Linked DNA regions of Homo sapiens. The protein of the gene in region 1 purifies or fractionates together with the protein of each later gene. This does not show direct contact. Each region holds a gene or a part of one and is shown on either strand. Other genes may lie near its edges.

Region 1 (5,065 bases):
GAGAAATGCTATCAAACTTACCTGGTGTACAAGTCATTGGAGCTGGATCAGCTGTAGGTGAACACACACTCCTGGCCATCAGGAAGAAAAATTACAGGACCCGTCTCCACAGCCATGGCTACAAATCAATCAACAGCAGGAGAAACAGAAGCAGCCACTCCCTTCAGCTCAGAAACGTGTGAAGGGCACTGGGTTGCAGATTTCTGTCCTTACCATCATCCCTCCTTACCATCATCCCCACACAAGTGGATGATAAAGTTACAGTTAGATAAGGCTTCAAAGATGATACGCACAACGTGTGTGTAATAAAAAAAAAAATACGACGTAATGAGACAATCAATGCAATTGAAAACATGGACCAAATAATCAGTGCAATAAAAGACATCGATCCCAACGCAGACAGAAAAGTGCTGCTGAAGATTTAGACTTGGCAACAGACAGACGGAGTTCAGGCATATGCAAGCAGAGACTATAAATAATGAAATGATGCTCCTTGGGACAAGATATTTTTCTATTAATCTTTATTTATATGATGGTTCTCTGGAAAGCACTTCATTTTAAAACCTGTTTCTGAGATAAGTAGCATAAGGCGCATTTGAAGAAATACTATTGTTGTATCACAGAGAACTTCCATGCCTTGAAATCATTTTTTTCAGAGTATTATTAATAAGATGGTCTAGCTATGCAGAGCAAAAAAGAAAAAAAAATCTTCAAAAGCCAAGACTGTCAGGCACATGAAGGTATGCATAAACGGTCTTCACATTTAATTTTGTATGATTCGGGAGATACCTCCATGTACATCTAACCAGGTCAGGCAGCATAAGTCCTCAGTAACCCTGGGTGTGCCGGCTTCAAGCCAAAGTATTCTGTTGAGTTTGGTTTGTGGAGAGACATTTGAAATGTTGCTTCATAGCTTCCATTTTCTAAAAGAAAAGGCAAATATTAGGGAAAGACTGTAGAGAAAGACACAGAATGTTTACCACAATCTTCATCACTTAACATACAATAAAGGAAAGTGTTGCCTTTTATTCTATAAACCACTAGTCATCATTTGCTCCCCACTGAAAGGAAAGGGAATTTGTCTCATGGAAAACTAAGCTAGATTTATATCCTTTCTCTGCATAAACACATATCAAACACCATAAGGAAGACAACATCTCCAATTATAATTTCCCACTGTGTTTTCATGGAAAATAGGCTGAATTGACAGCTTGGTCCCAGAGGCGGAGCTCTAAATGGTTCATGGCTACACCAGAAGAAGGTATTAAGTGGCAAGCTTTGGGGAGGTAGAATCCAGTCTCATATTGGACATTATTTGCCCTGGGACTCAAACATCAATTTAGATTCTAGGTCAGACGTGGTGGTTCATGCCTGTAATTCCAACACTTTGGGAGGCCAAGGTGGGCAGAGCACTTGAGCCTAAGAGTTCGAGACCAGCCTAGGCAACATGGTGAAACCCCATCTCTACAAAAAATACGAAAATTAGCCAGGCATAGTAGTGCGTGCCTGTAATCCCAGCGACTCAAGAAGCTGAGGTGGGAGGATCACCTGAGACCAGGGAGGTCAAAGTGAGCCATGACCTCACCACTGCACTCCAGCCTGGGTGACAGAGTGAGACCCTGTCTCAAAAAATAAAATAAATAAATAAATAATAATAATAATAGATTCTGACTCCAACTTCAACTATGGGAAATGAGAATTCTTTCATAGTTCCATTCATTGCCTTGTTCTGTCTAAAATCGTCTTTTCAAATAAAATGCATGGATAATCTATGAGTTATGAGATGGGTTTGTTTTTGGAAGCCAAATAGTTTGCAGAATACCTGACTGCATCATCATGTCGCATTTTAAAGGTTATTGACTCTCTTCGGGAGTCAGTGGCTGGGATTTAGGGTGCTGCCTGGTTTACTCCTTCACTGTCAGACATTTTGACCTCACAACAGACTATTAGGGACTGGATTCCAAACTAGAACCCATCAGAGAAACAGGCAGAATGTGCTAGCCACAACTGTAACTTGCCTTTTTTTCTTTCTTTTTTGGAAATGGCCTATAAAGAAGCCATCTGTCTACATTAAAGATTCTCTCTCGGCTGTGCCATTTCACATCCAATATTTCTTTATAATTATCACATTAAAACTGCACAATTTTTAAAGAACTTTCCAAGCTGAGTGAACAGACATGGATTTAAACAGGACCAATGAGTCTGTTACTGTGGGTTTTGCTTTGTTTTGTTTCTGGTATGAGGATAAATATAATCATATTTTCATTTTCTACCATTCTTCAGGTAGAATATCTTAAGCTTGCCAGTTTCCTTTTTTTCAAAAATGAGTCCCAACCCACTCCTTAGAAATGGAATTGTAACCAAGTGGCAAGCAGAGGGCTTTAAAGTAGAAGTCTGTGGGTCCAGAGCATGAAAGAAACACCCTGGAGAGACATCAAATCGTGGGCTAGAATCACTTTCTCATTCAAGCAAATGAATGACAAAACCTTTATGGTCCAATAACAAAGTGTGATGGCCACCCTCACTAGCTCCAAGATGCTCTAAAAATAGATTAAGTGCTTTTTATATCAGCTTTTTTTTGTAAGTCTATTAAGAAGGGACATCCCTACTATTCAAATTGGACTTTGGTGCAAAGAGCATTGCTATTTGTCAGCCAATTTTTAAAGAGCACCAAAGATTTCTTCTTCCTTCTCCAAATAAACCCTTCTATCCACCCTTCTTTGTACATGCACCAATTCTTAACTAGAGACCTGCCTGGGGAACATGGTGAAGTCACTTTAGGTATCTTTGACAAGTCAGCTTTTGCTGCCTTGTAATTTTAAACTTCTACTGACGATGGAAAATAATTATGTAATTCTTACTGGTTTGATAAGTGTCTCTCATTTAGAGAATAATGAGTGCATATTCCATCATTATCTCCTGAGAGTAACAGCCCAAAAAGCCGTCTTAATTTTCAGTGGAGGCATAATATGGGAGATAAAAAGACTAAACTTTTTTAAATTTTTTAAAAAACGCTTATAGCTCCAGAGCAAAACCATGAGCAATGTTGCCCTAGAGAATAAACTATGGCCTCAAATTCAGTTGCAAAGCCAATCATATTAATAATAATACAACATGTACCTAGGTATTTGCCAAATATCAGGAAAAAACAGATATTTTTATAGCACTTAATGTCTTCTGTTTTGTTTTGTTTTGTTTTTTGTTTTTGTTTTTGTTTTGGAGACAGAGTCTTGCTCTGTCACCCAGGCTGGAGTGCAGTGGTGCAATCTTGGCTCACTGCAACCTCTGCCTCCCGGGTTCAAGTGATTTTCAGGCTTCAGCCTCCCAAGTAGCTGGGACCGCAGGCATGAGCCACCCCACCCGGCTAATGCACTTCATGTCTTTAGGGGTTTTCACGCATGCTGTCCTATCTGTATGGCTCACAATATTTAAGCATTCGCCCATGTCCTCAAGATCCATTATCAGATTCTATTGTCTTATTAACACTTAATAAATGTTCACTAATATGTGGCACTTATCAAACTAGTAAGAATTACATAATTATTTTCCATCATCAAGGGAAGTTTAAAACCAGAAGGCAGCAAGAGCTTACTTGTCAAAGATACCTAAAGGGACTTCACCATGTTCCCCGGTGTTTCCAGAGGAGCGTTCTGGTTAATAGAAACGGAAATGGAGTACCAAGCACTGACGACTAAACCCGTGGCAGCAATAATTTTCTTTCATGACTCAACACCAGCTTTGTGATTTTTTAAGGTTATAATTTATTGCCATCATTCTGAACATCAGTAGTCACCCCCCTAAAGTTGTACATGTGGTTGGTGGAGGAGTTGAGGTTACAGAATGCTGATAAAAGGACACTTGCTGTATCTTCTCTCAAACAAAGTTTATATAGAGGAAGAGGAGGAAGTAAATGCAAAACAAAACTCTTCCCTGCATCAAAGGTGCACTTTTTCCTAGAAATCCCATCAACCATAGCCTTCTGTGCCCTAGTGTGCAAGAAACAGACCCACGAAAGGTCAGCAGCCCCGCAGCTCTAGAAAGGAGCTGGACCCCGCCAGAAAGGTGTGCAGACCAGGGCTTTGGAAGGAGACAGACAGCCCTGAATTGGAATTCCCTTTCTCCTGTTACTAAGCAAAATGTGCCGCAGATAGCATACAGTACGGTAACTAGCAGCTTTTCCACCCCAGAATCCTGTAGCTACCTGGAGAAGTGGAAGAAATGAAGCATGAAAAGGCCTAGGAATCTTCGTCTTCTCCAGGCTCTTCTCCTTCTGCAGTTTCTTCCTCCTCCTCGGCTTCCCCTTCCGCACCCTCCATGGCTATTTCTTCCGTCTTATTTTAACAAAACTTACATTAGTATTAAGAAGCATAAGGGCCAAGGATACAGTGAGAAAAAGACTGTAAAATGCTGGACTAGAGGTCAAAGCCTCCCACACCCCACCACACAACACACAAACAAACACACACAACACACAAATACACACACCACACATGCCACACAAACACATGCCACACACACACCCCACACACATACCGCCCAAACACACACACACCACGGAAACACACATGACACACAGCACACACACCCCCCCACACACCACCCAGACACACATCCACGCACACACACCACATACACACCACACACAAATACCAAACACCACATAGCACACACACACACCAGACCACACACCCCACACACCACATCACATATACCACAAATACACACACAATATACACATACACATCACACATACACATACATACCCTCCACACCATAACATACACACCATAACACACATCACACACACACACACCAAACACACCACACACCATATACACCACACACAAATACACATACACCACACATACAACACACCACACATACCACACATACATACACACACATAAAAAAAATCATCCTTCTAAACACAGAGTCCTCAATTTAGAATGGTGCTTTAGAATGATATGTTAATCCTAACAGGTTTTATAATCCCACCTAAGTGTACAGTCTCCACTCATATTAACAAACCATTCTCAGCAAATAACCTTTACAAATTCAGAAAGTA
Region 2 (7,203 bases), on another chromosome or scaffold:
AAATACTAAAAAACCCAAAATGGAATATAAAATAGTGCTGTTTTGCAAATTTTGGGGACTCTGCACACTGTCTGACACAAACTAGCTCAACGCAATCTCTATTTTAACTTGATTATTCTCAGTTAAAATAATCAAAAAGTAGGTCTCAACTTATCCTCCCAAATCTCTCTTCATCATGCATGTAGCACGTGAGTCACCTATGAGGCTTTCAACAATATGAAATGCCTGGGTCTCATTATCCAGAGGTTTTAGTTTGGCATTTTTCACTTTTAAAAAACTCTGACTTATTTGGATACACCAAAAACTTAGAAAACCACTAGCTAGGAACACAACGTTAGTCACTTTAGGGCAGTTTTCAGGCTCAGCATTCCCTGGCCTCTACTCTATAGATGTCACAACACTCTTCCCTTCAGTGTGACAACCAAAAACGTCTCCAGACACTGCCAAATGTCACCTGGGGGCAAAATCAACTCCAGCTGAGAGCCACTGGTCTAAGGACTGACAGCTGGAAAATACCAGGGTTATGGTCTTCAATTGACACATAGGTATTAATATTTTGGAGGCGGGGGGCAGTCTTTCCTGGCAACAGGGAGTAGGTCTAACTCTAAAATTCCTATTCCAGTCATCACATAATCTTTCTTAATCCTTCTTTAAAGCAGTTCATTTTCTAGACACCTTTCCTTCCTAATTTCTCCTCCTTTGAAAGGCTGAAGTCATTCTTCATCCATTTTCAGGGCAATAAGAATTCCCCTCCTTAAGATCCCCCCTGCCTTCTTGTAAATACTTTCTCCTCTATTCTCAACAATGTTCTCATATTCTTATTAGGTTTACATTCAAACGGCTCCCATCCACAGTGACAGCACATGGAGACAGTGGTCATAATTAGTTTGCCTCCAGCAACTGCTCTGCAGTTGAACTAGGTCTCTCTGTTTTTCTGGCTACCACAGCCTTGAAGATTAGAACTTTGAAAGAATGACCTTTTCCTGAATGAATTATGCCCTGTCTGAAGGCAACATATCCAGCAAGCAGGAAAACATAACTCCTGTAATTAATGCATTGTGACACATCTGCTTTTTGATGAGGCTTTAGGTATCTAATAAACATCTGTAACTATCTTAAAAAGGTATCTATCACATTGATAAGGGTCAAAAGCCTATAGGAAACAACTATTATTCAAGAGAAATGCTCTACTCTCTTTATACTGACAGTTTCTTGGGATTCTCCAGACTCGAATCCCAGTGTCAAGTCAACTTACAGAACTATACATCCCTGGTCCTCATCTCTCTACTACGGAATTACTTTTACAGGATTATAACATTATACCTTTAGCATTTTTCTACAGAGCAGCAAAATAGCCATATGTAGAATATCTTTTTATATATTTTTAATTACCATGGAGGAAACTGTCTATGTTGCTCAATGTTCTTTATGTAAAAACGAAGGTGACACCTCGAAAAAACAAACAAACAAAAACAAACAAAAAAAGTAGGTGACAAATTCCCCTGGAAACTAGGGGGAAATAACCTCTTTCTCCTGATCAAGAGGTACACTTTCTATTACAGAAGAACGAATATTAAAGAGCTCTTCCTGTTCTCCTTTTGTGTTTGGCTACTAGGAGAGCAGACCTAAATTCTTTGCCCCATTCCGGCAAATTTCCTCCGTTAAGAACTTTGGGCAAAACTGTTTGTCTACCCCATTCTTGCTTGTCTTTTTATTTTTATGTTAATGATTTTCAGGTGAGTTTTTTACTACAGGCTGCTGAACTATACTGCAGATAAGTAGGCTTATGAATGTGGGTGTTAAAAAAAATACAGAGTTGTTCAACATGGATGTTTTCCTAGATTAAGTTTTGATGTTTATACAACCGACTTGAAGAACACAAAAAGTTTATCTGAAATCCATTCATCAAGGCTAAGTTCTCCATACTGTTTTGTAACTTATTTTAAAATGATGGATATCATGTATGTGATACATAATGGATGATGAATATTATTTGGACAAAACTCATTATGAGTAAAGAAACAAAATTACATGTCTCTACATTCGAGTGGGTGGGTTACAAAATTACAAGCAGCAATCCCTGCAACAGGATTCCAGTGTTCTAGGCTTCTACCCCATTCTAACTATGAGGAAAATGAAATTTCATTCCATTACCATTTACTGGGACTCTGCTTTGAGAAGAGCACTAAAATAATTTGGCTCCCAAATGACCTCCAATATCGAACTTGGTGTGCTGCCGTGTAATAATCTTCCCAAGAGCATCAGCTTCCTTCTAAGTGTTAGACCCTGCCCCATTTTGTCTTTTATTTGACGAGGTTGGCTCTTTTCTTGGTGTTTCCCCTTAAGTTTACAACTTGCAGATTTCTCCCCTTCTATCAAGTTTTGATTTCTCTTTGCCCCATCTAAGACTGACATTCCAAAATCAGAACTCTGCACTTTTATTCGTCTGCTGTCCCTGCCTCCCCCATAGCCACAGATTCACTGTAACAGAACTCTGCTCTACTTTCTCGAGCACATCGGTCTTCCGGCCATAAGGTATCAGGTCCTTCCTTTCCTTCGGCTCTTATGGTGCCGTACCCGATCGGTCTGGTCTCCCAGCGTTGGGTACGTTAGAGATTTAAGTCTTTTCCCCAACTCCAGGTAGCTCCACAGATCCGCCTTCCTTCCCCCAAACCCCCGAGACCCCATCTCCACAACTTCGGCCTCAGTCCCCAGATCCACCCACTTCCAGGGCGTCAACGTCTCCTCCCCCTCACCGGGTCCTCAAGTCCTGAGTCTGACGCCCCCCGCCTCCACCCCAACCCTGGGCTGCACTGCTCCGCCGCGTCCGCACGCACCCACTCGTTGGCCCGATGGCCGAAGGTGTACAGAGCCACCTGGCTGGCCACGTCCACGATGCGGTTGATATAGGGGTCGTGGCGCTGCAGGGCCGCTAGGCTGATGTCGCGCCCCTTTCCCACCAGGCCGCCTGCCGCCACGGCTGCCATCTTCCCTCCCTCCCAGACATAGGCACGGGGCTCTTGGAAGCCACTCTCAATAGATCGCAGAACGAGCGAGCTGCCTCGCAACCGAGAACCCACGGCGACCACACGGCCCGGGAGGCCTTCCGGCTCCAGTCACCCCCACCCTCCTGCCCGCCGACAGACGCAAGGCCTCACTAATCGATGGCCGCGCCCCGCCCACTGAGGATCGTTGCCACTGGCAACGACAAGCCCAGGCCTGCCCTCTGCATCCCGTTTCTTTCTCCAAGAGCTGTTTTTCTACGCGCTCGAGCCTTTGAGCTGTGTGTGCGGTAGGATTTCCTTCTTGGATGTGTTCGACCCCTTGGCATATCTTTTCTTTGGCGCTTCAGTGATCAAATCTATCACAATAAATAAGCCTCGAGCATCAAGAACTCTGAAGAGAAAGAGAACTGAATTGATTTCTGAATGCGCTAACACCCAGTGGTTCTCAAAGTGTGGTGTGGTCCTGGAACCCTTTGGGAGTTTCTGAGACCCTTTCAGGGGATCTGCAAGGTCAAAAAAAAAACAAAACCTTTTATGACAATGCTGAGACTTACTTATTTGACTTGTTCACTGTGGTGACGTTTTGCAGACAATGGTGGTTAAAAGCGCCGGTGGTTTAACCCAATCAAGGCAGGGGCACCAAACTGTATTGCTAGTCAAAGTACGCGTCACTAATCTGCACTCTCAGTTACAAAAGAAAAAAAAAAAAAGAAGAAGGTAGAGAGCCAGTGTCACCTGATGGTGTTCTTGATAAGCAGTAAGAATTATTAATTTCATTGAAGCTTAATCCTTGGGTACAATTCTTTTTAACATTCTGCATGAAAAAATAGGAAATAGGCATAAAGCACGTCTGCTGCAAAATGAAGTGTGTCATATTTGTCTCTAGGAAAATACTTCTGTGCTTGAGTTGTAGGCCGAATTCATGTTTTTATTTTTATTTTCATAAAACATTTTTACTTGAAAGAAAGATGGGCAAACTATGATTATTCAAACAGGTACTTGACAGACATTTTTCTGAAAATAAATAAAGTGTGCCTGTCACTTTCAGGAAAACAAGGGACAATTACTGCTGCCAATGATAATTTTTAAGCCTTCAAGCCAGAATTAAAAGTTTAGAAAATGTGTATCTACTGCCATGAGCTTGACATCTCAGTACTTAATGTTTTTTTTTCTGATGAGATCAGTGATGATATTAATGAGCGCAATTTTAACAAATCTTGTATAATGGAAAGTGTCAATATCTCAAAGATCTGCTTAACTCAGTGGTCCAGTATTTTCCAAAAGACCAATGTCTCATGCTACATAATCATGCACAGGCAAAAGATCCATTCAAGGACAAGGTGGACTAATGGATTTTTAATGTAACAGTATGAAAAGTTAATAGGATTTCAGATAGTACATTGCAGCTAAGCTTTGAGAAACTCCAGCTTGTCAAGTTTTGGTATATTATCCAAGAAGAATATCCACAATTGTCTGAAAAACTCTATTAAAATATCCATCTCTTTTCCAACTACATTATCTACATATGAGGCCAGAGTTTCTTCATATACTCCAAACAAAACACACATAGCCCGGGGTCTTTAAAGTTATTTTTAATTTCCAATATGGTAAATATAGGTGGGTATAACTCACATAAACAAAAGTTCTCTGAGGGAGTCCTTAATAATTTTTAAGAGTGGGCCAGGTGCGGTGGCTCCTGCCTGTAATCCCAGCACTTTGGGAGGCTGAGGCGGGCGGATCACAAGGTCAGTAGTTCAAGACCAGCCTGGCCAACATGGTGAAACCCCGTCTCTACTAAAAATACAAAAATTAGCCAGGAGTGGTGGCAGGTACCTGTAATCCCGGATACTCGGGAGGCTGAGGCAGGAGAATCGCTTGAACCCGGGAGGCAGAGGTTGCAGTGAGCCGAGATCCTGCCACTGCACTCCAGCCTGGGTGATAGAGCGAGACTCCATCTCAAAAATAAAATAAATAAAAAGTAATTAAAAAAATAATTTTTAAGAGTGTAAAGGAGTCTTGAGACTAAAAAGTTGAGAATGGTTGATCTAAACCATTTATCTAGCATTAAATATTAGAACAACTGTGCAGACATTACTACTCACATTCATAAATTCTTACCTATTTGATATAGAAATATCATAGATACGGCACACATACCCTCTCATAATAATATGTTGCAATATAATCTTTGCAGTCACAATTTCAATTGTACTGAAATTCTTGGTTAAGCTGCATTTTGGAGTCTCAGTCCTATTGACTCCCAAGCCTAACTTCCCAGTGGGGAAGAATACAGCAATGGCTTTCAAACAACTTTTTTTTGACTGAGGCTGGGGTCATTTGCAGTCTGACTGAGAACATATGTTTATATATTTATACCTGATATTAACTAGAATAAATGTTTCAATACTAAGTATACAGACATTTTTTAAAATGCTATTTGTGACTTTGTAAATTGGTTTCATGACCAACTAATGGATTGTGACCTGTAGTTTGAAAAACATAGGGCTGCAGCAACTGAGCAACCACACAAAGCTGACTAGACAACTTTCCATGTTAGTTCACTACCTTTTTCCAGTGTTACTGACCTCTTTGCTCTTAATCACATATGTGCTTCTAAAAACAAGTTTAATCTGTAATATGGGCAATGGAGAATTTTGTGATTAATTCTTGAACTAGTCACACTCTCTCACTTGATTAGCTGTTCTAATTTTGATTTTTCAGCATGAACCCACAGATTCTACTTTGCATTTCCCTCGTACATATAATGAGGCATTGTTTTTCTTTTGTCTGTTAAGTTCCATGATCCTTACACAGATCATTGTCCTCATAATTTTTCAGTCTTTCCATCTTTAAAGTGTAAAGAATAGATCATGGCCTCCAAAGAACGAATTGCTTTGAGCTCATTAGAGAAGACAGGCAATATAGGGGCCATTGTAAAAGCTTAAATGTTCATAAAACAAAAGTGTATACAAGTCTTAGTGATCTGTATGACTACAATTGCAAAGCATTTATGGAGTGCTCACTTGATGAAATTCATTAATTCTTCATGATTTATTATTGCTTCTTGTGTCTGTGCTGAAATTACATGGTCATGTCTTCTCCAGTCTTTGATCTCACTGATGAGTAAGATGAAGATACCCTTACTTTGCTTACGGGGAAAATTTCACATATGTGAACAACATGCTAATATGACCCTTAGTAGAGAAGAGTTAATTTTTTGTGTGTTTAGAGTTAATGAAACAACCCATCTTCTGTTCTAACCTCCTTGTATCTGAACTCTTTTCTCCCAAGTATCTTACACATTCCTATCTCTGTACCTTTGCCCATCTGTCTTCTTAGCTTGGAATGACCTTTTCCTGGAAAACTCACCTCCTGTCTTCTCCCATACAATCCTTTCAGCCTATGAATCCTCATTGCATTCTGTTGCGATTTTTCTTGTGGCACTTAGCTCACTTTATCCTGACTTAGACTTATTTATTTACTACGTTACATATACATTTTTTTCCAATTCTAAAAAAAAACAGTCATTGTAATAAAAGAGAATTGTTATAGAAAATCTAGCCTGAAAACATTATTGCAATTGAACAAGAAATTGGGCTTTGAGTTTCTTGACAGATAAGCAAAAAGGAGGAAATAGTATGTTTCATAAAGTTTTACTTATTTATTTATTTATTTATTTATTTTTTGAGACAGGGTCTTTCTCTGTCGCTCAGGCTGGAGTGCAGTGGCACAATCACAGCTCACTGCAGACTTGACCTCCTGGGTTCAAGCACTCCTCCCACCCCAGCCTCCCAGGTAGCTGGGACCACAGGCTGGTGCCACCATGCCCGGCCAATGTTTTTTATATTTTGTAGTGATGGGGTCTCACTACGTTGCTCAGGATGGAGATGTTATTTTTCATGTTTTGTAGTGATGGGGTCTCACTATGTTGCTCAGGATGGAGATGTTACTTTTTATGTTTTGTAGTGATGGGGTCTCACTACGTTGCTCAGGATGGAGATGTTATTTTTTATGTGCTTATCACCACGTAGTCTCCCTAGCACTTGGTCCAATGCCTTGTACATAATAGAGATTCAATAAATGCTTATTCTTTTGAACTAAACCCTGAGTTAGTTGAATTTACTCATTAAATGTCAGCATTTTTTAAAGAGCTCATGATTTATAAAATAATGAAATCCAAGTTGGGATAAAAAAACGT

Evidence for each region.
Region 2: the proteins of SH3BGR (region 1) and DCP1B purify together in Homo sapiens (affinity purification with mass spectrometry; 2 studies listed by BioGRID and IntAct, with this or other methods). This does not show direct contact.

The regions. Positions count from the first base shown.
Region 1 is NC_000021.9:39,510,946-39,516,010, reverse strand, and holds the end of SH3BGR (SH3 domain-binding glutamic acid-rich protein), read right to left. Parts: intron 4,332-5,065; coding exon 4,236-4,331; 3' UTR 4,202-4,235; intron 924-4,201; coding exon of another isoform or gene 852-923; 3' UTR 507-851; downstream 1-506. Other genes in the region: GET1-SH3BGR (WRB-SH3BGR readthrough), read right to left, coding at 4,236-4,331.
Region 2 is NC_000012.12:2,001,445-2,008,647, forward strand, and holds the start of DCP1B (mRNA-decapping enzyme 1B), read right to left. Parts: upstream 3,014-7,203; 5' UTR 2,988-3,013; coding exon 2,838-2,987; intron 1-2,837. UniProt on the Homo sapiens protein: May play a role in the degradation of mRNAs, both in normal mRNA turnover and in nonsense-mediated mRNA decay. May remove the 7-methyl guanine cap structure from mRNA molecules, yielding a 5'-phosphorylated mRNA fragment and 7m-GDP.